Regions from separate parts of the Homo sapiens genome. Here regions 1, 2, 3, 4, 5 and 6 are each reported to be linked to region 7. The links are microRNA targets in miRTarBase. Many come from high-throughput screens and were not tested one by one. Region 7 holds a microRNA gene; each other region holds the end of a gene's coding sequence.
Evidence for each region. Region 7 holds the annotated microRNA hsa-miR-4646-5p (ACUGGGAAGAGGAGCUGAGGGA, at 2,293-2,314, shown strand). A microRNA usually pairs through its seed, bases 2 to 8, with sites in the 3' UTR of a target mRNA and lowers its output. Matches are read on the target gene's strand: a 7mer-m8 pairs with bases 2 to 8, a 7mer-A1 pairs with bases 2 to 7 and ends in A, and an 8mer does both.

Region 1 (4,058 bases), not on the chromosome of region 7:
GCTGAGGGCACAAACCAGTCCTGGTTACCTCTCAAAAGGTCAGAGTAGGCTGGGCACGGTGGCTCACGCCTGTCATCCCACCACTTTGGAGTGACCACTTTGAGATCGTGCCATTGCACTCCAGCCTGGGCGACAGACTCTGTCACAAAAAAACAAACAAACAAACAAAAAAAGGCGGACGTCTGGGTAATGTCTGTGATGTCATTCTCGCGTGCATTCTGGTTTGCTAGAGAAAGGAATGTCGACACAGTTATAAAGCATGTAATTGCACTTAATACCTATCTTATCTATCAGCTTCTTGGAGGCATCGTTACTGCTGATAAAGTGGACGAATAATTGTGGTTTCATTTTTCCTCGGGAAAATTAATCATGGAGAGAGGTGTCAAAATGTAGGTGTGCGTACAGGATCGTGTCAAGCCCAAAACACCACGTTGCGTGGTATCTCCTTGTTTGAGAATCTCTGCCCCAGGTTTCAAATCTAAGCTCCTCAGGCAGCTGGCCTGACCCCGGGCCAAACCTGTTCTTGCCTCTAAGCTCCACATGCACCGTTCCCTCCACCCACAGCGCGCCGCCCTCTTGGAAAAACTCACAGCCATCTGCTGACGACGAGCTCCGTGGTTGCAGCTTGAAGCACTTTCTTTTTTTTTTTTGCTCTGTCGCCCAGGCTGGAGGGCAGTGGCATAATCTCGGCTCACTGTAACCTTCGCCTCCGGGGTTCAAGGGATTCTCCTGCCTCAGCCTTCCGAGTAGCTGGGATTACAGGCACACGCCACCCTGCCTGGCTAATTTTTGTATTTTTAGTAGAGATGGGGTTTCACCGTGTTGGCCAGGCTGGTCTTGAACTCCTGACCTCAGGTGATCCACCTGCCTCAGCCTCCCAAAGTGCTGGGACTACAGGCGTGAGCCACCGCGCCCGGCCCACTCATTCTCTTTCTTGTGGAGGCGACACTGATTTCATTTTGGCGAGTCATCTCCTCCCACTCTTGGTTCTGTGGTTTCCGGTGTGGGTTCCGGTGTGCCCCTGGTAGCTCTGTCTCCAGGGGCAGGCACTCGATCCAGGCCTGACCAATCAGAATCTATTCCTCTCCCTGGCTACAGTGATTGGGTCAGGGTGGATGCCTCATTCAAGGTGCTGCACTGAGAATCCGCTCTGAGACTTCCACATTTTGGGAAAGAGGCACTTCCTCTTTCTGCCTCCAATGCTGAACTGACAGAATGAAAGCCTGGAGCTGTGGGTGGCTGTTGCTGCCACCCCACCTCCAGGTGAGAATCTGCTTGGGAAAGAAGCCACTGTAGAGGAAGGTTCAGCCAGGCGATGGTTCCAGACACATTCCTGACAGTGTGTGAGCACCTGGAAGTAGCCTTACTCTGGGACTAAGGTGCTAATGCTTATAAATATCCTTTTTTTGGCCCAAGCCAGTTTGGACTGGGTTTGTCACTTGCAACAGAATTTGAACGAGAGGTGTCCGGGCACGGTGGCTCATGCCTGTCACCCCAGCACTTTGGGAGGCCGAGGTGGGAGGCATCACCCAAGGTCAGGAGTTCGAGACCAGCCTGGCCAACACGGTGAAACCCAATCTCTACTAAAAATACAAAAATTAGCCAGGCGTGGTGGCGCATGATGTAGTCCCAGCTACTCAGGAGGTTGAGGCAGGAGAATCACTTGAACCTGGGAGGTGGAGGTCGCAGTGAGCCAAGATCACACCACTACACTCCAGCCTGGGTGACAAGAACGAGACTGTCTCGAGAAAAACCTGCAACACGAGGCCCTTGGTTGCCTTCCGGGGCCCTCTTCGTTTCCTAATATTCATAAGGAGACCACATTGGCAAACACGTATTGCTTTATTTAGTGTTTCTCTGGATTGCAGAAGTGTCAGCAGTGGGCTGAGACCCCCAGAAGGGCATAGAGGCAGCTGGGCAGCCCCCAGGCCCTTGAGGGTAGGAGCAGGGAGAAGCAGCAGAAGGAGGTGATGCCCCTGCCGCTCCTCCCAAGGCCAGCCCCGTCCCCACGCTCCCATGCCAGGGAGGGGTCAGGGGCCAGAAAAGGCCCTACATCCTTGAGTGGGGCCCGAGTGTGCGGGCAAGCTGTCTGTCATCCCAAGGCCTGGACTCTGGCAGAGGCGCTTTTCCCACCTGGTGGCTCCCAGGGCCGATTGCTGGTCAAGGAGCCAGATATACTCTTAAGACATGATGTGGGTTTTATGGGGCTCCCTGGCTCTGGGAGTGGCAGTGAGGCACGCTGAGGAAGGGCTGCCATCTTGGTTTTGTGGCAACCTGCCGTATGACCGTGGGCAAGTGCCTTCTCCTGTTTGGGCATCTGTCTTCTGCTCTGTAACATCAAGGGGCTGGGCTGGATGATCTCTCAGCGTCTTCCAACCTCTATGGTCTAAGACGGCCTTCCCCACTCCAGCACTGCCTCAAACTGGGATGATGAGGACAGTAAAAGGGCGTTCTTTTTTTTTTTTTTTAAGACGGAGTCTCGCTCTGTTGCCCAGGCTGGAGTGCAGTGGTGTACTCTTGGCTCACTGCAACCTCCACTTCCCGGGTTCAAGTGATTCTCCTGCCTCAGCCTCCCGAGTAGCTGGGATTAGAGGCGTGCACCACCATGCCCGGCTAATTTTGTATTTTTACTAGAGGCGGAGTTTCTCCATGTAGGTCAGGTTGGTCTCGAAATCCTGACCTCAGGTTATCTGCCCGTCTCCGCCTCCCAAAGTGCTGGGGTTACAGGCGTGAGCCACCATGCCCAGCCTAAAAGGACATTCTTAAGGCAGAAAGAAGGGGGCAGGCAAGGGTGGTCTCAGCCCCCAGATGGAAGTCAGAGTGGGCTGCAAAAGATGCAGATGGGCAGGCAGGGAGACAGGTAAACAGACAGAAAGACAAGGTGCCAAGGGAATCAGGAGGAGAGGTGTCCTGGCCAGGGAAGAGGGCACCAGAGCCCAGCCCACACAACCTCTCGGCTACATTCCTTGCCCTGCTGGAGTCAGGGAAAACACATCCACTGTGTCCTTGGGTGGGAAATGGCTTTTTTTAAAAAATAGTTTCCTATAAAGCATCAAAAAAACCTCAGAGAAAACCTCAGCAAAAGTTCCCTTCTCTCAAATATTTGGCATCGGCAGTAGGGCTGGCATGGCTCGCTCTGGCCCTGGCTTTCCTATTGCTGTGGCCCGGCCTGGCCCACTCCTGGGGTAGCTCCTGGCCCCTGCTGCTCCCTCAAGAGAGGGATGGGCAGGAGGTGGGAGATTGCAGGTGGGCTTCGGGGTGTCCCTGGGTCCCTGTCTGGAAGTTCGAGTCTTTGGTAACTGGGAAGGGGAGGAGGAGAAAAGCAAAGCATTGGGCGTTGGGAGGGTCCAGTGGGCGCCTTTATCACCGAGAATTCAGCCGTGGGGCGACCTGTGGGGGCGGAGAGAGACGGCCAAGTGGTGAGGGGAGCAGACGGGGGCCCCGGTACTCAGACTTTTCTTTTCGTCCTTGTTTTTTCCTTTTTATGGAGAATGGGGTCTCGCTATATTGTCCAGGCTGGTCTTGGACTCCTGGGCTCAAGCTGTCCTCCCACCTCTGCTTCCCTAAGAGTTGGGATTACAGGCGTGAGCCGCCGCACCCAGCCCCAGCGCTCAGATTCATGGGTTCGATGCAGGCAGGAGTGGTGGGGGCCTAGTGGTCTCCATCCTGGAGACTCAGACCTGACTCCCATAGGAATGCCCACCGCCCTGGCCAGCGTGAGCCTGTGAGCCTGTCCTCCCTCCTGGCACCCCCAATCAGCCTATGTATCTTCCCTGCATTGCCGTGCTGCCTTTTTTTTTTTTTTTTTTTTTTTGAGACAGGGTCTCATTTTGTCACCCAGGCTGGAGTGCAGTGGTGAGATCTTGGGTCTCATTGCAGCCTCAACCTCCTGGGCTCAAGCAATCCTCTCATCTCAGGCTTCTGAGCAACTGGGACTACAGGCATACGCCACCACACCAGGCTAACTTTTTTGTATACAAATTCTGAGATGGAATTTTGCTCTTGTTGCCCAGGGTAGAGTGTAATGGCGCAATCTCGGCTCACCGCAACCTCCACCT
Region 2 (4,058 bases), not on the chromosome of region 7:
TCTCCACAGTATCCTTTTAAAGATTTTATGCGAGTCCAACTGTCTAATCTTCTGATCTGCTTTAGGGGACAAGCAGGCCTTCGCACTATCACGTCCTCTGGGACGACAATCGTTTCTCCTCTGATGAGCTGCAGATCCTAACCTACCAGCTGTGTCACACCTACGTGCGCTGCACACGCTCCGTGTCCATCCCAGCGCCAGCATACTACGCTCACCTGGTGGCCTTCCGGGCCAGGTACCACCTGGTGGATAAGGAACATGACAGGTGAGTGGCATGCCTGGCTGGAGGTCACAGCAGGGGTGGTTTTTGCCACGGGTATTGGCAGCTGCTTTTCTGGAAGGGGAAGGGGCAGGGCCCCAGCGGCTGGAGCCGGCACCCCAGAAGGCCTGTTAATGGCACGGCCGTCAGCGTGGGACTCTTCCCTCTCCCAGGTTCCCGCCATGCCATCCCGACTTAGTGATCGACGCACTGCCTCATCGTGCATTAAGGCTGCACATTCTCATTCTCTCTCTCTCTCATCCCTGCAGTGCTGAAGGAAGCCATACCTCTGGGCAGAGTAACGGGCGAGACCACCAAGCACTGGCCAAGGCGGTCCAGGTTCACCAAGACACTCTGCGCACCATGTACTTTGCTTGACATGTTTTAGTGTTTAGCGATTGTGTACCGAGTGGGATTCACGAGACCAGCTACACTCAGACCAACAGATGGCCAGCCCTTCCGTGACAGCCAGCATCGAACATGAGACGTCATTGATTTTATTAGATTCTCCGTTTTCCAGAATGCCTTCCGTCCCAGATTTCAAACTTGGATTTTGAACTGCAGACCTGTATGAGAACCCAATGTCATAGGAAATATGGTTTGCTAAAATCTATAAGCTGCTTATTAAAACAGAGTCCCGTGTGTCCTAAAAATCTCCTAAAACCAGTCTATGAACTCAGGGCTTTAAAACATTTTTAATTTATTTGGTCATTCAATTTACTTGTTTTTAATACATGATTCTCTATGAAATTGATGGGCTCAAACTAGCTGTGAATCTTCTGAGAGTGAAAGCAACACAAAACACAAGTGTGGTTTTAAAGCCTTGAACATTCTGATGTTGTCACTAAAGTTGATTTCCAGGCGATGCTCGTGTGCCCCTGGCGTGGCTCACCCAAGTTCCTCGACTGAGGGCCGGTGGCCATGCAGAGGCGTCCGCAGGTGCCGTGTTCTGCCAGCACCGCCCTTCACCCGGCCTGAACTAAGGAGCAGTGGCAGAAGGTGGGCCCCGTGTGTTTACAGCATTTCCAGGTCCAGAGAGGTTGGCAGACAAGTGCCATTTTAATAAAAAATGTATTTAAAAAAAGAAAAAAGACAATATACTGACAGTCTAATCATCAGATTTGTCCTATAGGACTGTGACATTTATTTTCCAAAGTTTTTAAAGAATACGGGTCTGTGGTGATAAATACAGTACAATCCTTTTTCACTGTTATGTCTTTAATGTAAGAGAAGAATATATATATCTGGTTTGCAGTATTAATGTGATAGATAGATGCTGTTTTTTCATTTTATTGACTATGGGGTGCTTCTGTGATCTGTTTGGCATATCAAGAGTGTTTTGGAGCCTGGAGATGGGACCGCCTCTCAGTTCTTAGTGCTTAAGGACAGGAATATGCAATTGACTTAATGTGACAGCAACCCGCTTCCCCCGTGGAGACTGTGCAGCGTGTACCCATGGGAGGGACGGATGTGCCCTCCGCGCCGCTCGCCACCCTCCCTGCCGCCTCATCCCCGTGTGTCACTCACTCAGCTGATGAAGCACAAGTGGAAATTATTTATTCTTGCATTGCTGGGAAACATTGATGTGTGGGGACTCACTCCTCTCCGTGTGCTCTTTTGTCAGATGACTTCCATAGATCTATGCACTGAGATTCGTAGAAAGCTGTTGGTGGTGGCTCTGCTGGGCGTGAGGCCGTCGGTCACAGCGAAGGAGCTTGCCTGGCCCTGGGAGGCCCAAGGATAGCAGGGCCAGCAGAGGGCATGGGCCGTTCTTCTGGGGTTTGCATTTGGGGCCCCAGACTTGGGTTTGCCAATCTAGAAACTGTTGCACTAAGAGTGACACCACGGACGATTTTGAAGGCTAACAACAGACAACTCTGTTTGTGCTGAGTGGGCTTTTTGTCTCTGTACACAGTTTTAGTAAGACTCAAATCCATGTTCCGTGTAGAGGCGTCAGGAAGGAGGCGAGCCTCCCCTAGTGCTGCTGTGCGCTCCGTAGGTCCCCTCTTCCTGCTGCTGTTCCCTCCCCGGCCCTGCGCGACACTTACCTCGGCACTGTGGTGGGGTGGGGTGCCAAAGGAGCTGCCTCCTGCTCAGCGGCACCCCCCCCCCCACCTTTGTGCTCAGCTGCTTTGGAGGCAGCAGGAGGGGCAGCAAGCCGCAGGTCGGGGGTCTCCCGATACCTCGCCTGGATATTGGCGGCAATGACAAAGGGATGACTATTATTTGTGAAGATGTGTACTCAGAGTGGTGTGTGTGTGTGTGCATGCGTGTGTCCCTGTGTGTGAGTGTCTTATTAATGGCATTAGTCTCTTCTGGCTGTATTTTTTTTTAATCTTTTTAAATGACAGAAGCTCCCACTCTAAGAAATGGCAGTTCCTTTTGTTTTAGTGGCAAGTGGCACTTTCTCCTGTTTTCAGAAGGATACAGACATGCTCGTAGCTTAAATTAATGGATGCATTCAAGCTAAGGAGGGAATCTTGTGACTAATAACTTTTCAAATCTGAAATTAGATTAGTTTCCAGCCATTTTTACAATCATCTGGAACCATGTGTCTCAAAGGTGTGTTTCTTCCACCTGCGTCAGGCTGTCTGGGGGATGGCGGTTCTTGTTTAACATGCAGATTTGTGGGCCTGCTGCCACCTCCTGCGTGCGGTACTTCAGGGATGGCCAGGGCATCTGTGTCTAAGCGATGGCCTGCAGCCCTGGGCTCCCTGGGGTCTGAGGACCCAGCTCTGGTGGCACCCAGCAGGGAGGAGGTGCTTCCTGAGCAGATGCCTGAGACAGACTGGGCTGGCAGAAAAGTAGGACTACAATTTTTGTTTTTTTTAATCATTTTGAAGGAAAACTTTCATTTTTAGTGGGCCAGAGTACTTCGAAAAGGGTACTTTTTTATAGCCCTATGCTTGTTTTATAAAACTTTTAATACTAAAAACATTAATAGACCAAACATCTCCAGCTGGGTCAGCTGCACACCTTTGTACATGTCTGATGATTCAGAGTTTAAATGGCTGTAGTTACAATTTCTCAGGTAAACAATTGTTTTCTCAAATTTTTACCAATCCCTGCATTATTAGGATAAATTTTGAGACAGTGTAAAAACCTCAAAGTACAGTAGGGTAAGTCCCAGCCCTGTTCACGTGAAAGCCAGAGGTGGCCCTTCCCCGGCATCTGATCGTCTGATCATGTGGGTGCCTGGGGCCTTGCCACCCTTCCCTGTCCACTGCTGCCCCCCTGGGCCTGTCAAGATTTGAGGGGTGCCCACTCGCTGGCTTTGTCCCCATCCCACTGTTAAGTAAGGTGTGCCTTGCTTTAAGCAAACTGAATGTGAAAATTATGTGTAGAAGTCTGGGTTTGTTTAAAAGAAAAACTGGGATTTTATCTCATCTCTTTAAAAGAGGTCTCCCAATTCGATTTCTGTACTGGGACTCTTCCTGGTGTGTTTTTACATGTTCACTTTTTAAAAACATTGATGTACTCCCATCCTTTTACCACTACCCTATCACATTTGACAAGTTCTTGCTGTAATGACGACGCAATTAACGAACACCAGGGGAGCGGTGGAAAGCTGCCCTCGTGTGTGAGCCCTTCGGTGACGCAAAGCCACCGTCCTGTTGTTTTGTGTGTCCTAAGCTCAGATTTTCCTGGTTTGGATAAATTTTGTAAAACTGGGCATAGCTGTACTTTTAGAAAGGGATCGTTTTCCTTAAGTTTTGGTTTTCTCTGGTTCAAGCAGTCTTTACATGCAGCCTTTTGATTGCACATCAGGGTCTCCCTTTTCTTTTCCAGATGATGTTGC
Region 3 (4,066 bases), not on the chromosome of region 7:
GATAGTGCAAGGCACTGTCTAGCACGGTGCCTAAGGTACAGCAGGTCATCAACAATATTTACACTGTGGTCCCAGTAAGGTAGCCAGGCTATCCTCAGGTCACAGGTATTTATCATGCACAGAGTTTTGATTATTTTTGTTCAAGCTGACCAGTTGCCTGACCAACAGCAGCACATACTTCCCTGGCAATCACATCCATAGCCATGACTTTGGGCATCGTGGATATGCCAGTGATTCCCTGCACTTTCTCCACCCGTCCCCTCTCCCAGGTACTCTGCTTATCTCCAACCACCTTCCTAACACACAAGCGTTTCACATCATTTCAAATTGAAATCCAACATTCACTTATTCAAGCTAGTAGAGGGGAACTGTCCTTAACTTGTTAAAGAACAACTACCAAAATACCCTACAGCCATCCTGCCACCTCAGCCTCCTGAATAGCTGGAACTAAAGGTGCACACCACCCAGCTAATTTTTGTTCATTTTTTAAGAGACAAGGTCTCCCTATGTTGCCTAGGCTGGTCTTAAACTCCTGGGCTCAAGGGATTCTCCCTCCTCAGCCTCCCGAGGTGCTGGGATTACAGGCGTGAGCCATCGTGCCCAACCAATACAAGGTTTAACAAATCCTTAGGAAAGCCTAAGAAATGAACATTTAAAGCAGAAATTAAGATTATACAGAACTCCAGTAAAATTGATTAATACGTCTAAGGACTGGTTATTTGAATAACAAAAAATCTGGAACAATTTTCTGGAAATACAAATTAACAAAACTGAGCTAAAGATGAAACATCTAAAAAGAGCAGATACTCTGCAGGCCTTTGCTTAATTATTCCAATATTTAATTCTCCAGACCTCTGTTAACTTTGGGTTCTGTTGAGAAAATAAGTTATTTGAATGTTGTAGATTCCACAGATCTATCGAATGTTGAGGTAACTGGTTCCTGTTTTATGTTTTTGAGAATTTTTTTTGAAATTAAAACATTTTTTACTATTTCAACGGGATTTTGGGATGTGGAAGAGATTGTTCAGGCCTGGCGCGGTGGCTCACGTCTGTAATCCCAGCACTTTGGGAGGCCAAGGCAGGCTTATCACGAGGTCAGGAGATCGAGACCATCCTGGCTAACACGGTGAAACCCCGTCTCTACTGAAAATACAAAAAAAAATTAGTCGGGCATGGTGGCGGGTGCCTGTGGTCCTAGCTACTTGGGAGGCTGAGGAAGGAGAATGGCATGAACCCGGGAGGTGGAGCTTGCAGATCGTGCCCCACTGCACTCCAGCCTGGGGGACAGAGCGAGACTCTGTCTCAAAAAAAAAAAAAAAAAAGAAGAGATTGTTCATCACCCTTATCTTGAACTGGAAGTTGATATTCTCTTTTATGCACAACATGGCTTCTATGATAAACCTTTGATTGAGAACCTTTTTTTTCTTGCTCTGTTGCCCAGGCTGGAGTGCAGTGGCACAATCATGGCTCGCTGCAGCCTTCAGCTCCTAGGCTCAAGCGATCCTCTTGCTTAGGCCTCTTGAGTAGCTGGGACTATGCACACACACCACCATGCCCAACTAATTTTATTTTTTTTTAGAGACAGAGTCTTGTCATGTAGCCTGGGGTGGTCTTGAACTCCTGGCCTCAAACGATCCTCCCACCTTGGTCTCCCAAAGTGCTGGGATTACAGGTGTGAGCCACCACTCCTGGCCCACAATTCCGAACACTGCTAAGAGCTAACCATTTCTATAGCATACTCACTTTCTGAAACATTCCTCTGGTAAGGAAACCAGGTCAGGTGTTCTTTGCTGGAAGTCCAACTATGTTTTGTGACTCACTCAGGTTCACATAGTGAGTCAGTAGTGGAGGGGATTCCAGCTGAGTAACCCCTATCCTGAGGCATCTAAGTTAAATGGAAGTTCCAGACAACAGAGCTGACCCACTCTGCTTTCTCATCCCTGAATTCCTGAAAGTCTCAGAAGTCTTTGGTCTAATCTTAATTGGAATTTGCTCACATCTTCAGCTTGACAGATCAAAATAAGATCTGGAATAGTACTCATGCTACTCAATTGATTCCTCTTGAAAATAGCCCTGTGTGAAGTAACATCAGCAATCATTATCCCCTTTACAAAAGGGAATCTGATTTAGAAAGGTGAAGCGTCACTCAGGGTTTAAAAACAAAACCACTATAGTAGAAGAGCGAGGAGGCTTTGAATGGTATATTCTATTGGGCAATTTGAGACCCGGGAATCTATGTGCATAAATATATGTACAGCAATCAGTATTAATCAATAATCAACTCCCTTGCCCCTAAATTTCCCCTTATAAATCTAGCCTTTGGGCTAATCTATCTTTCAGTTTAGCACCCAATTGTTCTCTTTAGCCCATGGCCTGTCTCCATTTAGAAGGCAAATTCAAAAACAGGCTAAATCAAACAAGGCCACCATAAAGATCCTCAGGGTAAGAAGGCTCAAAAATACAAAGGGAAAGCCAATACCAGGAATGCTATAAACATTTTATTTATTTTTTAAGAAAGTAGCTTCAGAAAAAGAGGAAAATATCTAGATCATTTATTTATACATATATATATTTTTTAATAAAAACCTTTACATTATCTTCATGCATAAAGACCCAGGTGTGGCCATATTGCCTGAGATAGCCCTAACACCAGCTATCTCATGCCATTACCTGGGGCTCCCTATAGCTGTCAGCAGTGTAGCAAAGGCCCTCTGCCTGCCCCTAACGCCCAACTCCATGCCTGCCTCAGTCATGGTTTGTTTTTGCTTCTGGAAGGGGTAGATGGAGGGTGGGAAATGCTTTGGAGCTAACATGGGATGAACAGGGAGGGTTACCCAACCTGCCATTTTTTATCCAAACTCTGCAGGCAAATCCAGACAGAGTCTCAGCAAGACTGAAAACCAGGGACCAAACCAAACTCTGGGAGCTTCCCACAGACATGTCACATGTGACCAAGGGTTCCTGCACATAGTAGTAGCAAAGGTATGGTGTTCATGGAACTCTAAAGGCAGGAACAAAAACAGCCCTGAAGATCAATCCCTCCGTGACAGGCATTCACTTCTGCCCTAAGTGTGTCAGAAAGATCCCATTTTGTTTCCTAACTCAGGCCAACCCTCCTTTGCCTCCAAAATTCAGTGTTAACTAACCAATTACTTAAGAGACGGATCCCTCTTCCTTCTGTGGATAGTTCATCTGTTAAGGATCCATTATCACCTGTCTCACTCCTCCTAAGGAGTCCTAGTATAAAAGGGCCAGGGTAGGAGTAGGGAAGCTGGTTGGCATGGAGGGTCACAAGATCCAGAATGGCTAGGGATGGAAAAAGAATACCCTGGTTCTTTGGGGGATTCTGCCAAAGGAGCTTTATTGACCATTTTTTTAAAGGAAAAACACTGAATGATCTTGAGGATGGTAAACTGTCTCCTCTTCTGGGTTCCAGAAGCCCTTATGCTACGTTCAGTATTAAGAAAAGCCCTGAACAAGTGGAGGATGCTGCTTCTGGCAGCAGGGAGGGAGGGTAGATGCCACAGCCAACCCAGAGAATGGCAAACAGTGCCAATCCAAACAAGGCAGGGAACCTCTGTGTGGTGTGAATGGGCATGTGACTGTGATGCAAAGTGCCTGGGGCTCACAGGCTCCCAACAGCCAGTTCTCGCAGATAGGACTGGGTAAGGCTGCGCAGTTCGTCCATGGCATAGTCCTCAGGCATGGGAAGCCGGCCAATGTGGGGAGCCAAGAGGCGCAAAGGGACTCGCTGAGGGTCTGGTGTTGAGTCGGAGGTTCTATCAGGAGGATGATGCAGACTCAGCACCACGCGCAGCAGGTTGGCTACACGTTTGGCCATGTCTAGAGAGAAAAACTAGAGTCAAGCACTGAGCATGGGGTCTGGAGAAGGGTGGTAGGCACTGAGGGTGGGGTGTAATAATCATAAAAACAGGAAGCAAGAAGGCAGAAAGAGTGAGGAGGTTAGAGGCTTACCTGACTGAGCCAGGCGATCTTTAGCACTGTAACACTGAATCTGCTCTATCCGACTGCACAGTGAAGTCACTTTGATGTGTAACTGCTCCAG
Region 4 (4,066 bases), not on the chromosome of region 7:
GAACGAGGACAAGGCAGGCTTTAGAAATCGGTGTGGCAGGTGAGGCGCCCAGCAACAAGAGCAGCCTGCCACAGCAGTGGCTCTTGGTAAGGCAAGGTTGGGAAATGGCACAGAACAGAAACAGGGAAGGCTGGGTGTGGGATGCTGCAAAGGCCACAGAGGCTTGGGCTGCTGGCCTCCTTCTGGTTGTGGTTAAGTTAATCAATGCCTGCCTTCCGGACTCCTGGCCTCAGTTCTGTAGGCCTCCTTCCCACAAGGCTCACAGTTGAAGTACACAGTGATAATGGGTGTGCTGTACCTCTGGCAGTCACATTATGTGCCTCTATGGAGTTAACCCTCTCATCTTCCGTGTCTTTTAGGCTCTGAATGCTCTTGAATCCATGGCATCAAGTAAGCAGTATGTTGAATACCAGGATCAAATATTGCAAGCCACCCAATTTATAAGGCATCCTGGCCATTGCCTTCAAGATGGGAAAAGCTTCTTGGCTCTTCTCGTTAACTGTCTGTATCCAGAAGTGCATTATTTGGACCACATACGATAGTTAACACTGAGGCTCTTGAAAAACCCATTGCTGTTTATGTTTACATTTAACTTTGCTGTTGCACAAGTAACTTTGCTCAATTGCACTGTAGAGCTCAGTTTGGCCAATGTGTAGTTGACTGAGATGCAAGTTGGGAGGCGTTAGATATTAGATAATTTTGGGGTGTGTGTGTGTGTGTGTGTGTGTTTTCTTAGCTCTTAAGACCTTCTGGGGACTCTTTAAGTTTTTATATTTATCCACAAGAGAAACTTACTAAGTTCCACTTGGGTGCAGAGCCACTCACAGTTGCCGAATGTCCCAGTCATCTCACAAGACCTCCAGATGGAGTTCTTTGTATGTTTCCACTTCTGTCTCTGTTTTATGTAAATGTTCCAGATCTGACAACCTTGGAAGTCACTCAGTACCCTTACTTTTAAACCCCATTTGTGTTCCTCCAAAGTAAAGAAGTCAATTTTGAAAAATTTCTGCATTTCTCAAATGTGGACAAATACAATAGTTTTAAAGTATTGTTTTTCTCAGAAGGGAGATAAAAATGCCGAGTTAGTTAAAGTGGGTCATGTGTAAAATACGACCACTTGATCGTGATTATAGTGGGCAGTAGAGATGATGACAAGTCAATTTCCATCCAGCCGTGTATCCTCATGGAGAAGCTGCCTGTCTGAATCAGGATGGCAAGCTGGCAGTCTGGGAGGAGCATGTTTTGCACAGATGTTTTGTTTGGTCCACTTGGTGAGGAGTGCAGACAGGGCTGCCTCTCTCTAGTCGGGAGAGTCTGTGCATTCCCTCGGGCCCTGACCCTAGCCTCATTCACATCACTTGCCCCTGTCGACACCTAAGTTTGCACCCTTTGATAGACACCATGTTCGATATCTGAAAGGCTCAGTGTCAGGAGACAGAGACTGAGGGAGACTGAAGACCTGATTCTCTGTTCCCTGCTTGTTTTTTAACTTCAAACTCAGATGAAGCCAATGGACCTGCTGAAACACTTGTCTGTGGAAACTGGGTCAGGTCGGGAGATCTACTGAAATTTGGCTTTTTTTCCATAGCCACGTGCCTTCTGTTGTTGACAGTTCATTCATTACCAAAGCCTGTGTGTAACTTTGCCTTGTTCTGTGGCCATCTTCTTGCTCATGTTATTTCTCCTGGGAATGAGCAGTTTGACTTCTGTTCCCACGTTCCTCATTCTATCAGCTCTAGATGGATTTTGCCTGCATAGCTGGCTTAATATGTCTTTGTGTATGGGTAGTCTGTAGCCTGAGAATATTTACCTAAAAATGTCTAAACAGCCACCAAGAATGTTTATAGGGGTATAGGAATATAGTTAACAGAGTGCTAATCTCTCCTCAAATGTCCTTTTGGAATGCTTCCCCCAAAATTGGGAAGTTGGTAGGAGCTTTTCTTTACTTTGAATTTCTTTACTTGGACAGAACGATTCTGCCTTAAAGACACGCTTTGCAGCTCTGATAAAGAACATCCCTGTTTAGTCTCTTGAGTTTTACAGGCCACAAAATGTCCGTCTCAGAGGGATCTGTCTCAGCTTTTCTTATTTTTGCTTCTCTCCGTTTTCAAAATTAATCATCTTGTTCTCTGTATAAGAAAATTTGAGAAGCTGTGGACAATTTAATAGTCTGATCTGGCAACAGCGATTTTTGTTTGGAAATATTTTGTGTTTTCTTTGAGGAGGATATAATTACTGATATCCTAGGATGTGAAATTTTTGAGTGACAGTATGCACATTTTAAAGAAAATTATGATTAATCTGTATAATGTTTTTTGGTCTGTAAAAATTATAAAAAATAAAATCATTTATCTTTGGTTGTAACTGTTTAAAAACCAAATTATAGGGATATCACACTATCTTGTAAAGTGTTTCAGCTGTTAAAGTTGCTGTAGGTTTTTATGCCTGATGTCATTTAATTTATTTGACATTGAACTTCATTAATAATCAGAGATGGTCAGTGAAAGCGCTTCCTCTTTAACTCTTTCTTGCTTAACCTTGGAAGGTTGACTCAACTCCTAGGTGTCTATGGGAAACTCTGGGCTAGGAACGTGCTATAAAGACACTGAGCTAGTTCAGACATGGCCATGCTGCTGTAGCCTCCTGGGAAAGAAGGGCGGCAGAGAGACCAGCCCGCCTGTTGGCTTGCAGGGGTAATGAGCCTTGGCTTGAAAAAATTGTTGGCCTCCAGAGAGCACGGGGCTGTGGTTTCAGAATCAGTGATGGGTGCCGCACATCAAGACGGGAATCAAGCAAGACCAAGGCCCTGTGGACTGAGCAGCGTGGAGGGCGAACGGCTGCAGGCTCCAGACTTCACCACAGGGTGGCCAACAGTGGCATCGGGACCAAATAAAGATGTCTAACAGCTTCCTGGGAGCAGGAGGAGGCAGGATTCTGGTTGCCATGAAAAACATCTCTCTCCCTCTCCATCACTCCCCATGCTGCAGTGCACAGGTGGGTTGCAGAGGCAGGCTGCATCCCGGAATCATGTTGTCCCACTGCCTATTAATAGAACAAGTGAAGGGCAGAATGCTGGAACACACCAGACATAGAGGGAGGGAGGTCCTGCCAGATGTGTCTACACAACTGTCTACATAGCATGACAGTAGCAGTGGATTCGGGACCCACCTGTACATGTTTCCAAAGCTCCTTCCTGCACACTCGGGACCTCAGCTCCAAGGCGTGACTCATTTCTCAGTCTCACCATCCTTTGTTGGCTCAGACATCGCATGCCTCTGCCCCACTGGGGTTGTGTGCCTGCGTCTCTCACTTCTTTGAGGTTGGGGAAAGCCTAGTCCAGAAAATGAAAACCCATAGACCAGCCTAACTTCCTTTCAACCAAGTGACGGCCTCCTGGTTCCTCTCAGTTCATCATCAAAATCAGTGTGTACATGTCATACAAGCCAAGAGTGTTCATGTCCTCGTTCCTTTCAAATGAAGGTGATATATACTTTTTCACTGAGTTTTTATTCCTGAAATTCTTTCTTCTGGAGCAGGAAGCAAATGTCCTGGAATCGTAGACTTTTACAGTCAGAAGGGTCATTCACGTTCATCTAGTGCCCCTCTCACTCTGCAGGGATCCTCCTGCCTCTCCTCTGCCCCTGTCCAGTGCCTGGTGGTCCAGCCTGTGATGGGCAGGCCTAGGCTGCCATCCGCAGGCTCTGTAGTTCTGCTTTCTATTGAACCAAGATGTTTCTACGTTGCCTATTGGTCGTGGTTCTGTCCAGAGCAGTTCAGGCTGGGGCTGTTCACTTGCCCCTCCTTGAGGCAGACCTTTAGATATTTTCAGTTTTCATCACATGTCTAACACCACTTCCACCCCACCCCTCACCTCTTAGGCTAAATCCAAGCTAAATCCCCCAATGTCTTTTTTTTTTTTTTTTTTTTGAGACGAGTCTCATCTGTCACCCAGGCTGGAGTGCAATGGCATGGTCTCGGCTCACTGCAACCTCCGCCTCCTGGGTTCAAGCTATTCTGCCTCAGCCTCCCAAGGAGCCAGGACTACAGGTGCATGCCACCACGCCCG
Region 5 (4,066 bases), not on the chromosome of region 7:
TGCATTCGCATCAACCACAAGATGGACCCCATCATCAGCAGGGTGGCCAGCCAGATCGGACTCAGCCAGCCCCAGCTGCACCAGCTGCTGCCCAGCGAGCTGACCCTGTGGGTGGACCCCTATGAGGTGTCCTACCGCATTGGGGAGGACGGCTCCATCTGCGTCTTGTACGAGGAGGCCCCACTGGCCGCCTCCTGTGGGCTCCTCACCTGCAAGAACCAAGTGCTGCTGGGCCGGAGCAGCCCCTCCAAGAACTACGTGATGGCAGTCTCCAGCTAGGCCCTTCCGCCCCCGCCCTGGGCGCCGCCGTGCTCATGCTGCCGTGACAACAGGCCACCACATACCTCAACCTGGGGAACTGTATTTTTAAATGAAGAGCTATTTATATATATTATTTTTTTTTAAGAAAGGAGGAAAAGAAACCAAAAGTTTTTTTTAAGAAAAAAAATCCTTCAAGGGAGCTGCTTGGAAGTGGCCTCCCCAGGTGCCTTTGGAGAGAACTGTTGCGTGCTTGAGTCTGTGAGCCAGTGTCTGCCTATAGGAGGGGGAGCTGTTAGGGGGTAGACCTAGCCAAGGAGAAGTGGGAGACGTTTGGCTAGCACCCCAGGAAGATGTGAGAGGGAGCAAGCAAGGTTAGCAACTGTGAACAGAGAGGTCGGGATTTGCCCTGGGGGAGGAAGAGAGGCCAAGTTCAGAGCTCTCTGTCTCCCCCAGCCAGACACCTGCATCCCTGGCTCCTCTATTACTCAGGGGCATTCATGCCTGGACTTAAACAATACTATGTTATCTTTTCTTTTATTTTTCTAATGAGGTCCTGGGCAGAGAGTGAAAAGGCCTCTCCTGATTCCTACTGTCCTAAGCTGCTTTTCTTGAAATCATGACTTGTTTCTAATTCTACCCTCAGGGGCCTGTAGATGTTGCTTTCCAGCCAGGAATCTAAAGCTTTGGGTTTTCTGAGGGGGGGGAGGAGGGAACTGGAGGTTATTGGGGTTAGGATGGAAGGGAACTCTGCACAAAACCTTTGCTTTGCTAGTGCTGCTTTGTGTGTATGTGTGGCAAATAATTTGGGGGTGATTTGCAATGAAATTTTGGGACCCAAAGAGTATCCACTGGGGATGTTTTTTGGCCAAAACTCTTCCTTTTGGAACCACATGAAAGTCTTGATGCTGCTGCCATGATCCCTTTGAGAGGTGGCTCAAAAGCTACAGGGAACTCCAGGTCCTTTATTACTGCCTTCTTTTCAAAAGCACAACTCTCCTCTAACCCTCCCCTCCCCCTTCCCTTCTGGTCGGGTCATAGAGCTACCGTATTTTCTAGGACAAGAGTTCTCAGTCACTGTGCAATATGCCCCCTGGGTCCCAGGAGGGTCTGGAGGAAAACTGGCTATCAGAACCTCCTGATGCCCTGGTGGGCTTAGGGAACCATCTCTCCTGCTCTCCTTGGGATGATGGCTGGCTAGTCAGCCTTGCATGTATTCCTTGGCTGAATGGGAGAGTGCCCCATGTTCTGCAAGACTACTTGGTATTCTTGTAGGGCCGACACTAAATAAAAGCCAAACCTTGGGCACTGTTTTTTCTCCCTGGTGCTCAGAGCACCTGTGGGAAAGGTTGCTGTCTGTCTCAGTACAATCCAAATTTGTCGTAGACTTGTGCAATATATACTGTTGTGGGTTGGAGAAAAGTGGAAAGCTACACTGGGAAGAAACTCCCTTCCTTCAATTTCTCAGTGACATTGATGAGGGGTCCTCAAAAGACCTCGAGTTTCCCAAACCGAATCACCTTAAGAAGGACAGGGCTAGGGCATTTGGCCAGGATGGCCACCCTCCTGCTGTTGCCCCTTAGTGAGGAATCTTCACCCCACTTCCTCTACCCCCAGGTTCTCCTCCCCACAGCCAGTCCCCTTTCCTGGATTTCTAAACTGCTCAATTTTGACTCAAAGGTGCTATTTACCAAACACTCTCCCTACCCATTCCTGCCAGCTCTGCCTCCTTTTCAACTCTCCACATTTTGTATTGCCTTCCCAGACCTGCTTCCAGTCTTTATTGCTTTAAAGTTCACTTTGGGCCCACAGACCCAAGAGCTAATTTTCTGGTTTGTGGGTTGAAACAAAGCTGTGAATCACTGCAGGCTGTGTTCTTGCATCTTGTCTGCAAACAGGTCCCTGCCTTTTTAGAAGCAGCCTCATGGTCTCATGCTTAATCTTGTCTCTCTTCTCTTCTTTATGATGTTCACTTTAAAAACAACAAAACCCCTGAGCTGGACTGTTGAGCAGGCCTGTCTCTCCTATTAAGTAAAAATAAATAGTAGTAGTATGTTTGTAAGCTATTCTGACAGAAAAGACAAAGGTTACTAATTGTATGATAGTGTTTTTATATGGAAGAATGTACAGCTTATGGACAAATGTACACCTTTTTGTTACTTTAATAAAAATGTAGTAGGATAAACTTGTGTGGTGTAGAGAAGTTAAAATCCTCACGTTGTACATTTGTGTTTCCCTTTCAGATCCAAATCCTTTCTTTGTGTTTAATAGTATTTCTCCTCACTTGCACTCAGACAATCTATAGCATGTGGGTGGTATAAAAGAAAAATCTGGTTGTATGGCTGGGCCATTTCCAAGCATCCCCTCTTTCCTGGAAAGTAGCTCCTTACTTCCCTCCGTTTTGTTTGTTTGTTTGTTTGTTTTGAGACAGTTTTGTCACTCAGGCTGGAGTGCAGTGGTGCAATCTCAGCTCATTGCAACCTCTGCCTCCTGGGCTCAAATAATTCTCCCACCTCTGCCTCTTGAGTAGCTGAGATTGCAGGCATGTGCCATCAGGCCCAGCTGATTTTTGTATTTTTTGTAGGGACGGGGTTTTGCCATGTTGTCCAGGCTGGTCTCAAACTCCTAAGTTCAAGTGATCCCCCTGCCTCTGCCTCCGAAAGTGCTGGGATTACAGGCGTGAGCCACCGCGCCCAACCTACTTCCACCTTTAATGAGGATTCTAATTTCCCTGTGAAGATGCTAGAAGTAACAGGGTTCTAGTCTGAACATTCCCTAGTCTAGCCAGATCTCCATCTTATGCATCTTGTTTTTGATAGTCGTTCATTTCATTCATTCATTCATTCAGTCAGTTATTCATTTAGCAAGCATGTATTGTCAGTAAGTGCTAGGCACTGAACTTATTAAAAATCCTTGAGACACAGCCTGTCTCACAGACCAGGGTTTGGTAAGCAGCGGGTAATGAACTCCTTCCCAGGCTAAGGCAGGATTGTTGGCAATTCCCAGAAAAGGTGCTCTTGTCATCTCTGGGGCTGTCATTTGCTATCCACCATACTTGTCTTGTTAGACAAGAGCAGCTAGGCCTCAGGATCTATGCACTGGAGCTGAATGCCAATGCTACAGGTTAGCTAGAGAGCAGCTACTTCTGACAGCAAACACTGGAGTGAGAGCCAAAAGTTTGTTACCAATTTGTAACTCCCTTTGGTTACATGCAAGGAAATAACAGTTTTTATCTTCCCTGACTTTTGAGTTCTTTCCATGAGATTTTTGACACAAGCCCAGAGTTTCCCACTGAGGGCAAGTACATTCCCAGCCTGGTCTAGTTTTTTCTTGGCTGTAGGTGAGCTGTATTTATTTGTTTATTTATTTATTTCTTTTCTTTTCTTTTTTGAGACGTAGTCTCACTCGCTCTTGTCGTCCAGGCTGGAGTGCAGTAGTACGATCTTGGCTCACTGCAACCTCCGCCTTCCGGGTTCAAGTGATTCTCCTGCCTCAGCCTCTGGAGTAGCTGGGATTACAGATGCCTGCCACCATGCCTGGCTAATTTTTGTACTTTTAGTAGAGACGGGGTTTCACCATGTTAGCCAGGATGGTCTCGAACTCCTGACCTGAGGTGATCCACCCTCCTCGGCCTCCCAAAGTGCTGGGATTACAGGTGTGAGCCACCGCAGCTGGCGGTGACCTGTATTTAAACTAAACTTTACACATGTTGCTTCATATACAGTGACAACTCCCCCAACTTCATTTCTTACCTCCATGACCTTTATCAACAAACATACAGTTTTCCCTAGATGTGCTATGTTGGAAG
Region 6 (4,066 bases), not on the chromosome of region 7:
AGGAGGCTGAGGCAGGAGAATGGCGTGAACCCGGGAGGTGGAGCTTGCAGTGAGCTGAGTTCGCGCCACTGCACTCCAGCCTGGGCGATGGAGTGAGAGTCTGTCTCAAAAACAACCACCACCACCACCAAACAGCTATTTTTGGGCTATCGGTCCCATTTATATGATAACCCATTAATCCATTAACAGTGAAAGGATGGGCTGGGTGCGTTGGCTCATGCCTGCAATCCCAGCTCTTTGGGAGGCCGAAGTGAGTGGATCGTTTGAGGTCAGGAGTTCAAGACCAGCCTGGCTAATATGGTGAAACCCTGTCACTAATAAAATTACAAAAATTAACCAGGCATGGTGGTGAACACAAAAATTAGCTGGGCATGGTGGCACGTGCCTGTAGTTCCAGCTACTCAAGAGGCTGAGGCAGGGGAATTGCTTGAACCTGGGAGGTGGAGGTTGCAGTGAGCTGAGATCATGCCACTGCACTCCAGCATGGGTGACAGAGACGCCGGCTCAAAAAAAAAAAAAAAAAAAAAAAAGTGAAAGGATGAATCCCCTCATGCGGGCAGAGCCTTCATGACCCAATCATTTCTTGAAGGTCCCACTTCTGAATACTGCCACATTGGGAATCAAGTTTCAACATGAGTTTTAGAGGGGACAAACATTCAAACCATAGCAATCACCTCACTGATGCATTAGAATTGCTCAGAGCTCCCTACACACATCGCCCTAGGCTGGGGGTGGTGGCTCATGCCTATTATCCTAACTTTGGAAGCCAAGGCAGGCAGATCGCTTGACCTCAGGAGTTCAAGACCAGTCTGGCCAATATGGTGAAACCCTGTCTCTACAAAAAAAAAAAAAAAAAAAAAAAAAAAAAAAAAAAAAAAGCTGGGCATGCTGGTTCACACCTCCCAGCTACTCAGGAGGCTGAGTTGGGAGGATTGTTTGAGCCCAGGGGGTCGAGGCTGCAATGAGCCGTGTTCATGACACTGCACTCCAGGTTGGGGGACAAAGTGAGACCATATCCGAATCAATACATATCACCCTGTTCACGACTGTCTTTGCTCAAGTTGATGCCCCCCCCAACAAATGCCCTTATTTGCCTACTGCACCCTTTGCCTGTAGGTTCTGACATATCAAAGTCCAGTTTATTATCCAGTTTCCTTGACTTCAAGCATTCATTCAATACTGAACACCTACCTGCTACCTACTGGGCAAAACAAACTTGCTTCCTGCTCTTGTAGACACGGTCGTAGGTTACTTTCACTAATCACCAAATGCTTTAAGAAAACACATAGGGTTGGGTGTGGTGGCTCACACCTGTATTCACAGCACTTTGGGAGGCTGAGGCAGGAGGGTAACTTGAATCCAGGAGCTTGAGACCAGTCTGGGCAACACAGCGAGACCTTGTCTCTATAAAAAATACAAAAAACAGGCCAGGCTTGGTGGCTCACGCCTGTAATCCCAGTACTTTGGGAGGCCAAGGTGGGCGGATCACGAGGTCAGTTCAAGACCAGCCTGGCCAACACAGTGAAACCCCATCTCTACTAAAAATACAAAAAATTAGCTGGGTGTGGTGGCGTGCATCTGTAATCCCAGCTACTAGGGAGGCTGAGGCAGGAGAATCACTTGAATCTGGGAGGTGGAGGTTGCAGTGAGCGGAGATTGCGCCACTGCACTCCAGCCAGGGCAACAGTGCAAAATTCCATCTCGAAAACAAAAACAAAAAACTAGCTGGGCAGGGTGGTGCATGCCTGTAGTCCCAGCTATTCCAGAGCCTGAGGTGGGAGGATTGCTGAGTCTGGGAAGTAGAGGTTGCAGTGAGCTGAGATCGTGCCACTGCACTCCAGCCTGGGTGACAGAGATGCCGTCTCAAAACCAACCAACCAAACCAAAAAACCACATAGGATGCTAAGTGGGAGTACAAGGGGAACTTAGATTAAGGGTCCGGAGAGGCATCTTTGAGGAAATATTTGGCTAAGGTCAGAAGGGAGTAGGGGTTAGCTGAGTAAAAGGGAGGGGGGCACAAGCATTCTAGAGGGATCAACATGTTAAAAATAAACCCAAAGCAGAAGCCAAAAGGAAAGCAGCAGTTGTGGAACTGAAAAGGAGCCTATGGCTGCAGTGCAGAGAAAGGGGTGGCCAAAAGCGCCCGGAAAGTGCTGTAGTCCTATGGCCATGGCCTTCCCCTGCCTTCCTGTGGTACCTCCAAGCTAGGCCTAGAACCCTTCCTTTGTGCATCCTCTGGGTTATACTGGAACCTTTTTTTGTGTGTGTGTGAGATGGAGTTTCACTCTTGCTGCCCAGGCTGGAGTGCAATGGCACGATCTCGGCTCACTGCAACCTCTGCCTCCTAGGTTCAAGCAATTCTCCTGTCTCAGCGTCCCGAGTAGCTGGGACTACAGGCGCACAGTGCCACCATGCCTGGTTAATTTTTGTATTTTTAGCAGTGACGGAGTTTTGCCATGTTGGCCAGCCTGATCTCGAACTCCTGGGCTCAAGTGATCCGCCTGCCTTGGCCTCCCAAAGTGCTAGGATTACAGGTGTGAGCCACCGCGCCCAGCCCATCTTTTTTTTTTTTTTTTGAGGCAGTCTTGCTCTGTCACCCAGGCTGGTGTGCAGTGGCGGGATCACTGTTCACTGCAGCCTCAATCTCCAAGGCTCAAGGGATCCTCCCATCTCAGCCTTCTGAGTAGCTGGGACTAAACTACAGGTGCATGCCACTATACCTGACTAGTTTTCATATTTTTCATAGAGATGGGTTTTTGCCATGTTGCCCAGGCCGGTCTTGAACTCCTGGGCTCAAGATCCGCCTGCCTGAGCCTCCCAAAGTGCTGGGATTACAGGCATGGGCTACTGTGCCCAGCCTCCACCATAACTGGAAGCTATCTCTTCAGTTCAAAATTAAAGTTGGACAGGAAGGAAAAAATAGTACGTTTCTAAAGATGACTTTGATCTATCTATAATGAAAGGTATGGGTGGTTTTGAATTCCTTCCAGTGGTAATAAGAGGACAAAGTACTTAACCAATCCCACTACCTCTGTTTTGAATCACAAATTCCTGGGTGACTAAAATAAATTCCTAGAGTTAAAGTTAAATGGGGAAGGTGACTACCAGAAAATAAACACCAACTTTATTAATATAATAGCAACAGAAAGAGTTTCCAATTTCTCAAAAGGAAAATAATATGAGACTAGTGGGCTATGATGATGCCTGTGAATAGCCAGCTACTGTACCCCACTGTAGCTGGACAAGTGTTAAACAAGTAAATGCCTTTCAAGAGGGCAGAGCCCTGCCCCCCCACCCCCCCCCCAAAAAAAACGGGAAATGCCTACATTTCTTGTTCTGATAGCTTCCCACCACACACCAAAGGTTCCTCAAGGACAGCTGCCACCAGAGCTGCTGCAAGAACATGTTTTTCACTGGGCGTCGCTTCACAGTCAGTTCCTCAAGCAGAAGACTAAAATATTATTTCTTTTTAGAAGATCTTGGTTGAGGGAGAACATACCAATATGGAGAACAGATCTTTGCTTCTCGAATTCAAGAAAAACCATTAACTAATCTATCAAGTTTTCTCCGATATGGTGTGCCAGAGTGCTCTGTGAAGAATCCTTTTCCATCCCTACCACGTGTCTGGGTGAAGGGAGAGGAGGGGGTGGCAAGCTGCCAGTACACTAGCAGGCACTCCTGGTGATGCTCTGGGCTCTGCTCCCTTTCTGCTGGTAGTAGTAGGCATGTTTTCTGGCAGCTGCAGCAGACTGATGTTGGGGGGAGGAAGGGGCCACCCACCAATCACCTCTTCTTGAAGCCGTATTTTTTGCGTTCATAGAAGAGGTCTGTCTTAGAGCTCCCCAGATTGACAATCTTTGGGCAGCCATCTCTCTGGAAAACAGAACAGAGAAGTTGTTAAGTCTTTGAGCCTGAACCAAGAGTGACTTAAGATAAAAAATTTAAGCCCAGTGTGGTAGCATGTGCCTTTAGTCCCAGCTACTACTCGAAGGCCGAGGCAGGAGGATTGCTGAAGCCCAGGAGTTCGAGACTAGTGGGCTATGATGATGCCTGTGAATAGCCAGCT
Region 7 (4,066 bases):
CGGTACGGGCTGACGTCAAGGGCACACAACACCTCAGAGGCAGGGAGGGCGGGGCCGGCAGGGGGACCTGCTGCTGGAAGAGCAGCGGCCCGAGCCGGGGCCATGGCGAAGCTGCTGAGCTGCGTCCTAGGCCCCCGGCTCTACAAAATCTACCGGGAGAGGGACTCTGAAAGGGCCCCGGCCAGCGTCCCTGAGACGCCAACGGCAGTCACTGCCCCCCATTCCAGCTCCTGGGTGAGTCGAGTTCCTCCCCACCGAAGAACGTGGTACAGTCCAAACCCTTTACGGCCTTTTGCTCCCCAGAAGTGCCCATAATGGGAAATAAGGGGAGCCTGCTTGTCAAGCCAGTTATCCGCAAAATCTGCGCTCTGTGTGCTTCCTGAGTTAAAGTCACGCCTACGGACTGGCCGCCTCCTTTCTTTTTCGCTCTTTACCGCTTTCTCATTCCGACTGCCACTCTTTGTTCTTTCCTCTCCGCGTCCCCCCGACCCTGTGTGTCGTGGTTCGTGCCGGTCCCAGTTGAGTCTTGAGTCCCGGGAAGAGACCCTGCGCGGACTGGGGAGCCGTTGAATTTTGCTGTCAGACTCCCAGTTTCCTCTTCTTCAGTGCCTCTTCATGCCTCCCCCGGCTCTGTTTTTATCTTCCCTTTACCCTCGCCTTGAATTTCAGAATGACTTTTACAGATCCTGTATCCGTCGGTCCTCCCCTCAACCCCCGCCCAACCTAGCCTGGAGACCCGAGTCATTGTATTCTGGAGAGCTGGCGGGTGGTGGTAGGCTGTTCTAAATATTCTCTTCCTTTTTATCAGTTGTCTCATTGTGTTACTGTCTCCTACAAACTGCCCGCTCCTACCCACATTCTCTTCTTAGTCAACTACTCTTATTTCTGATGCTTTTCTTTCCTTCTTAGATTGTCTAGGTGTCTTTTCTTTCTTCTCAAACTAACCCTTCTCCCCACATGCACGCGCCTGCAATCCATTTGAAACTAGGCTGTGGAAAAGGAGCAAAAATCGTCCAATGCTGCTTTCACTTTTGCTTCCAAATCCAGCTCCCTGTGTTTGTTCCCATGGTCAGGGGTGGGAAATTAGGTTCAGAGTGAGGGTGAGGAAGAGGAGTTTCTGTGGGGGCCAGGGATGTTTCAAGAGAGATAGTCAACGAGACTAGAACCAGAGGACACACAGCAGGGCTTCTGAAAGGGAAGGGAAAGGACCTGCCAGTGGGCAGGGTCCTTAAGGAGGCCATCTGTTTTGGCAGGATACGTACTATCAGCCCCGTGCCCTGGAGAAACATGCTGACAGCATCCTGGCACTGGTATGTCTACCCTGGCATCTGGGACTCTGCATCTTTCAGACCCACCTGTCCTCTTGAACTTAGCCCTCCCTAACTTGGGAGCAACAGTGCCCTGGGGTTGGGGGATGCCCTGGGCTCTGCAGCAGACCTCTCCAACACAGACACACAGGCACACTCTAAATGTGCATACTTGGCACTCCCCTTTGGTATGTAGCACTGCTTTCTCTGGGGGCAACCTGAGCCGTAAGGAAAACATGTTTACTCTTGGGACCATCTGCAGGTGCTAAGTCCTGCAGTTCCCCAGTGACCTGTCCTCCCTGGCAACTAACCTCTTTGGCTGCAGGGACAGCTGTTCTTTCTGGCACAGTTCCTGTGGTGACGTTTGCGCATCTCTTGGGGACCAGGCCAGGGGCTGTCCTGAGCAGGGCCAATTGAAAAGGCTTGATTAACTTGAGTAGACAGAGAGACTGCCTTTAAATGTGATGGAATTATGTCTGGAGATGGAAGACATAATTCTTCCATAATTCCAGAGGAAGAAAATAGAGCCTGTACCAAATTTTCCCAGCCTCCATTACATTGACACACTACTTTTCAACAAATACTGAGCACCTACTGTATTCATGGTGTCATACACCAAATATGATATGATATCCCTCAGGTTGTCCATCTTGCTCAGAGTGTATAGTATATGCCTGGAATGGCAGGTGTGTGTGTGTGTGTGTATTGATTGCCTGTCCCTGTCTCTCTGCTGCAGGCTTCAGTATTCTGGTCCATCTCTTATTACTCCTCTCCCTTCGCCTTCTTCTACTTGTACAGGAAAGGTCAGTGTGGTTTCAAAGGTGGTGGGGTAGCAAATGGGCAGGTTGTTGGCAGATGAGCCAGCTCCCTAAAGAGGAGAGGGGACCTGTGAAGATGGCTTGGCTTCCCTCTTCCATCAGGCATCTTCTTCCTCTTAGGGTATGGCTGTTCCAAACAGGGAGTGTGGGGTGGAGGTTGGGGCTGAACTGGGAAGAGGAGCTGAGGGACATTGCGGAGAGGGTCTCACATTGTCCCTCTCCCTTCCCAGGTTACTTGAGTTTGTCCAAAGTGGTGCCGTTTTCTCACTATGCTGGGACATTGCTGCTACTTCTGGCAGGTGTGGCCTGCCTCCGAGGTAGGTGGAGAGGAAACCTGGTTTGAATCTTATCTGTCACTGTCACTGGTTAAAAATTAAGTACCTTGTGCAAATACATTTTAGTGATGGGCCTCCGAGAGGGAATCATTGAGAATGGTTTAAGGCATGATCTTTTCCTTAAAAGACTTGGGTTATAAATATGAAAAAATAACTGAAAAGTAACAAAAAGGTTTGCTTTTTTTTTTTTAAGAGATAGGGTCTCACCATGTTGTCCAGGCTGGTCTCAAACTCCTGAACTCAAAGTGATCCTCCCACCTCAGCCTCCCGAAGTACTGGGATTATAGATGTGAGCCACTATGCCTGGCTGCTTTTATCTAGAAAAGATGCATATACCCTACAACAATTCTATATATGTATACATACTAGGAAAACTCCTGCACATGTATAAACAATATAGATGTACAAGAATACAGCATACAACATTGTTTGTAATAATCCTAAGCTGGAAACAACTCCAGTGGCTACAAATAGTAGGATGGATAAAATATGTTCTGTGTGGCCGGGTGTGGTGGCTCATGCCTGTAATCCCAGCACTTTGGGAGGCAGAGGCCAGTGGATCACGAGGTCAGGAATTTGAGACCAGCCTGACCAACATGGTAAAACCCCGTCTCTACCAAAAATACAAAAATTAGCTGGGCATGGTGGCACGTGCCTGTAATCCCAGCTACTTAGGAGGCTGAGGCAGGAGAATAGCTTGAACCTGGGAGGCAAAGGTTGCAGTGAGACGAGATTGCGCTACTGCACTCCATCCTGGGCAACAGAGCAAGACTCCGTCTCAAAAAAAAAAAAAAGTTCCATGCAATAGCCATGCAAGAGAACACTATATAGCAATGCAAATGAACAAACTGTAGCTACGCTCAACAACGCAGATGAAGCCAGGTGCAGTGGCTCATGCCTGTAATCCTAGCAGTTTGGTAGGCTGAAGCAGGCAGATCACCAGAGGTCAGGAGTTCAAGACCAGTCTGTCCAACATGGTGAAACCCCGTCTCTACTAAACATACAAAAAAAAATTAGCCAGGTATGGTGGTGAGCACCTGTAATCCCAGCTATTCGGGAGGCTGAGGCAGTAGAATTGCTTGAATCCAAGAGGCAGAGGTTGCAGTGAGCCAAGATTGCGCTACTGTACTGCATCCTGGGCAACAGAGCAAGGCTCCATCTCAGAAAAAATAAAATACAAAAAATTAACTGGGCATGGTGGCACATGCCTATAGTCTTAACTGCTTGGGAGGCTAAGGCATGAGAACTGCTTGAACCTGGGAGGCAGAGGTTGCAGTGAGCCAAGATAGCACCACTGCACTCCAGTCTGGGTGACAGAGCGAGACTCTGTCTCCAGATAAACAAAAGCAATGCAGATGAATTTCTCAAATGTTGTGTTAAATAGAAGAAGCTAACCACAAAATAATGTATGCAGTATGTTTTCATTTATATAAAATTCAAAAGGGATGTGCATGTTTGAGGTAGAACACCGAAGACAACAAGGGCATGGTTTTCTTTTTTTTTTTTTTTTTTTTTGAGACGGAGTCTCGCTCTGTCCCCCAGGCTGGAGTGCAGTGGCGCGATCTCGGCTCACTGCAAGCTCCGCCTCCCGGGTTCACGCCATTCT

Region 1: miRTarBase lists MYO1C as a target of hsa-miR-4646-5p. Seed matches in the 3' UTR shown: 7mer-m8 at 3,300-3,306 and 7mer-A1 at 2,217-2,223.
Region 2: miRTarBase lists AGO2 as a target of hsa-miR-4646-5p. Seed matches in the 3' UTR shown: 7mer-A1 at 791-797.
Region 3: the mRNA of NUP98 is a reported target of hsa-miR-4646-5p. Seed matches in the 3' UTR shown: 7mer-A1 at 2,919-2,925.
Region 4: the mRNA of EPG5 is a reported target of hsa-miR-4646-5p. The part of its 3' UTR that is shown has no 7-base or 8-base seed match.
Region 5: miRTarBase lists BTG2 as a target of hsa-miR-4646-5p. Seed matches in the 3' UTR shown: 8mer at 2,017-2,024.
Region 6: miRTarBase lists PHF5A as a target of hsa-miR-4646-5p. The part of its 3' UTR that is shown has no 7-base or 8-base seed match.

What each region holds. Positions count from the first base shown.
Region 1 is chr17:1,462,363-1,466,420 of GRCh38, forward strand. MYO1C (myosin IC) reads right to left here. Exons shown (of 32, transcript NM_001080779.2): 32 at 1,824-3,390. The coding sequence ends at 3,364. Among named protein-coding and RNA genes, the nearest start is that of CRK, 8.2 kb to the left of the region's middle. RefSeq lists enhancers at 634-713, 843-1,662.
Region 2 is chr8:140,528,623-140,532,680 of GRCh38, reverse strand. AGO2 (argonaute RISC catalytic component 2) reads left to right here. Exons shown (of 19, transcript NM_012154.5): 18 at 66-265; 19 at 529-4,058. The coding sequence ends at 637. Among named protein-coding and RNA genes, the nearest start is that of CHRAC1, 19 kb to the right of the region's middle.
Region 3 is chr11:3,672,534-3,676,599 of GRCh38, forward strand. NUP98 (nucleoporin 98 and 96 precursor) reads right to left here. Exons shown (of 33, transcript NM_016320.5): 32 at 3,976-4,066; 33 at 2,486-3,843. The coding sequence ends at 3,626. Among named protein-coding and RNA genes, the nearest start is that of CHRNA10, 3.2 kb to the left of the region's middle.
Region 4 is chr18:45,848,943-45,853,008 of GRCh38, reverse strand. It overlaps EPG5 (ectopic P-granules 5 autophagy tethering factor), which reads left to right. Exons shown (of 44, transcript NM_020964.3): 44 at 360-4,066. The coding sequence ends at 542. Among named protein-coding and RNA genes, the nearest start is that of SIGLEC15, 25 kb to the right of the region's middle.
Region 5 is chr1:203,307,160-203,311,225 of GRCh38, forward strand. BTG2 (BTG anti-proliferation factor 2) reads left to right here. Exons shown (of 2, transcript NM_006763.3): 2 at 1-2,443. The coding sequence ends at 279. Among named protein-coding and RNA genes, the nearest start is that of BTG2, 3.7 kb to the left of the region's middle. RefSeq lists enhancers at 1-579, 1-235, 580-1,522.
Region 6 is chr22:41,456,615-41,460,680 of GRCh38, forward strand. It overlaps PHF5A (PHD finger protein 5A), which reads right to left. Exons shown (of 4, transcript NM_032758.4): 4 at 3,103-3,873. The coding sequence ends at 3,784. Among named protein-coding and RNA genes, the nearest start is that of PHF5A, 10 kb to the right of the region's middle.
Region 7 is chr6:31,699,318-31,703,383 of GRCh38, reverse strand. MIR4646 (microRNA 4646) reads left to right here and starts at 2,293; the gene lies at 2,293-2,355. ABHD16A (abhydrolase domain containing 16A, phospholipase) reads left to right here and starts at 60. Exons shown (of 20, transcript NM_021160.3): 1 at 60-234; 2 at 1,254-1,310; 3 at 2,044-2,110; 4 at 2,356-2,442. The coding sequence starts at 103.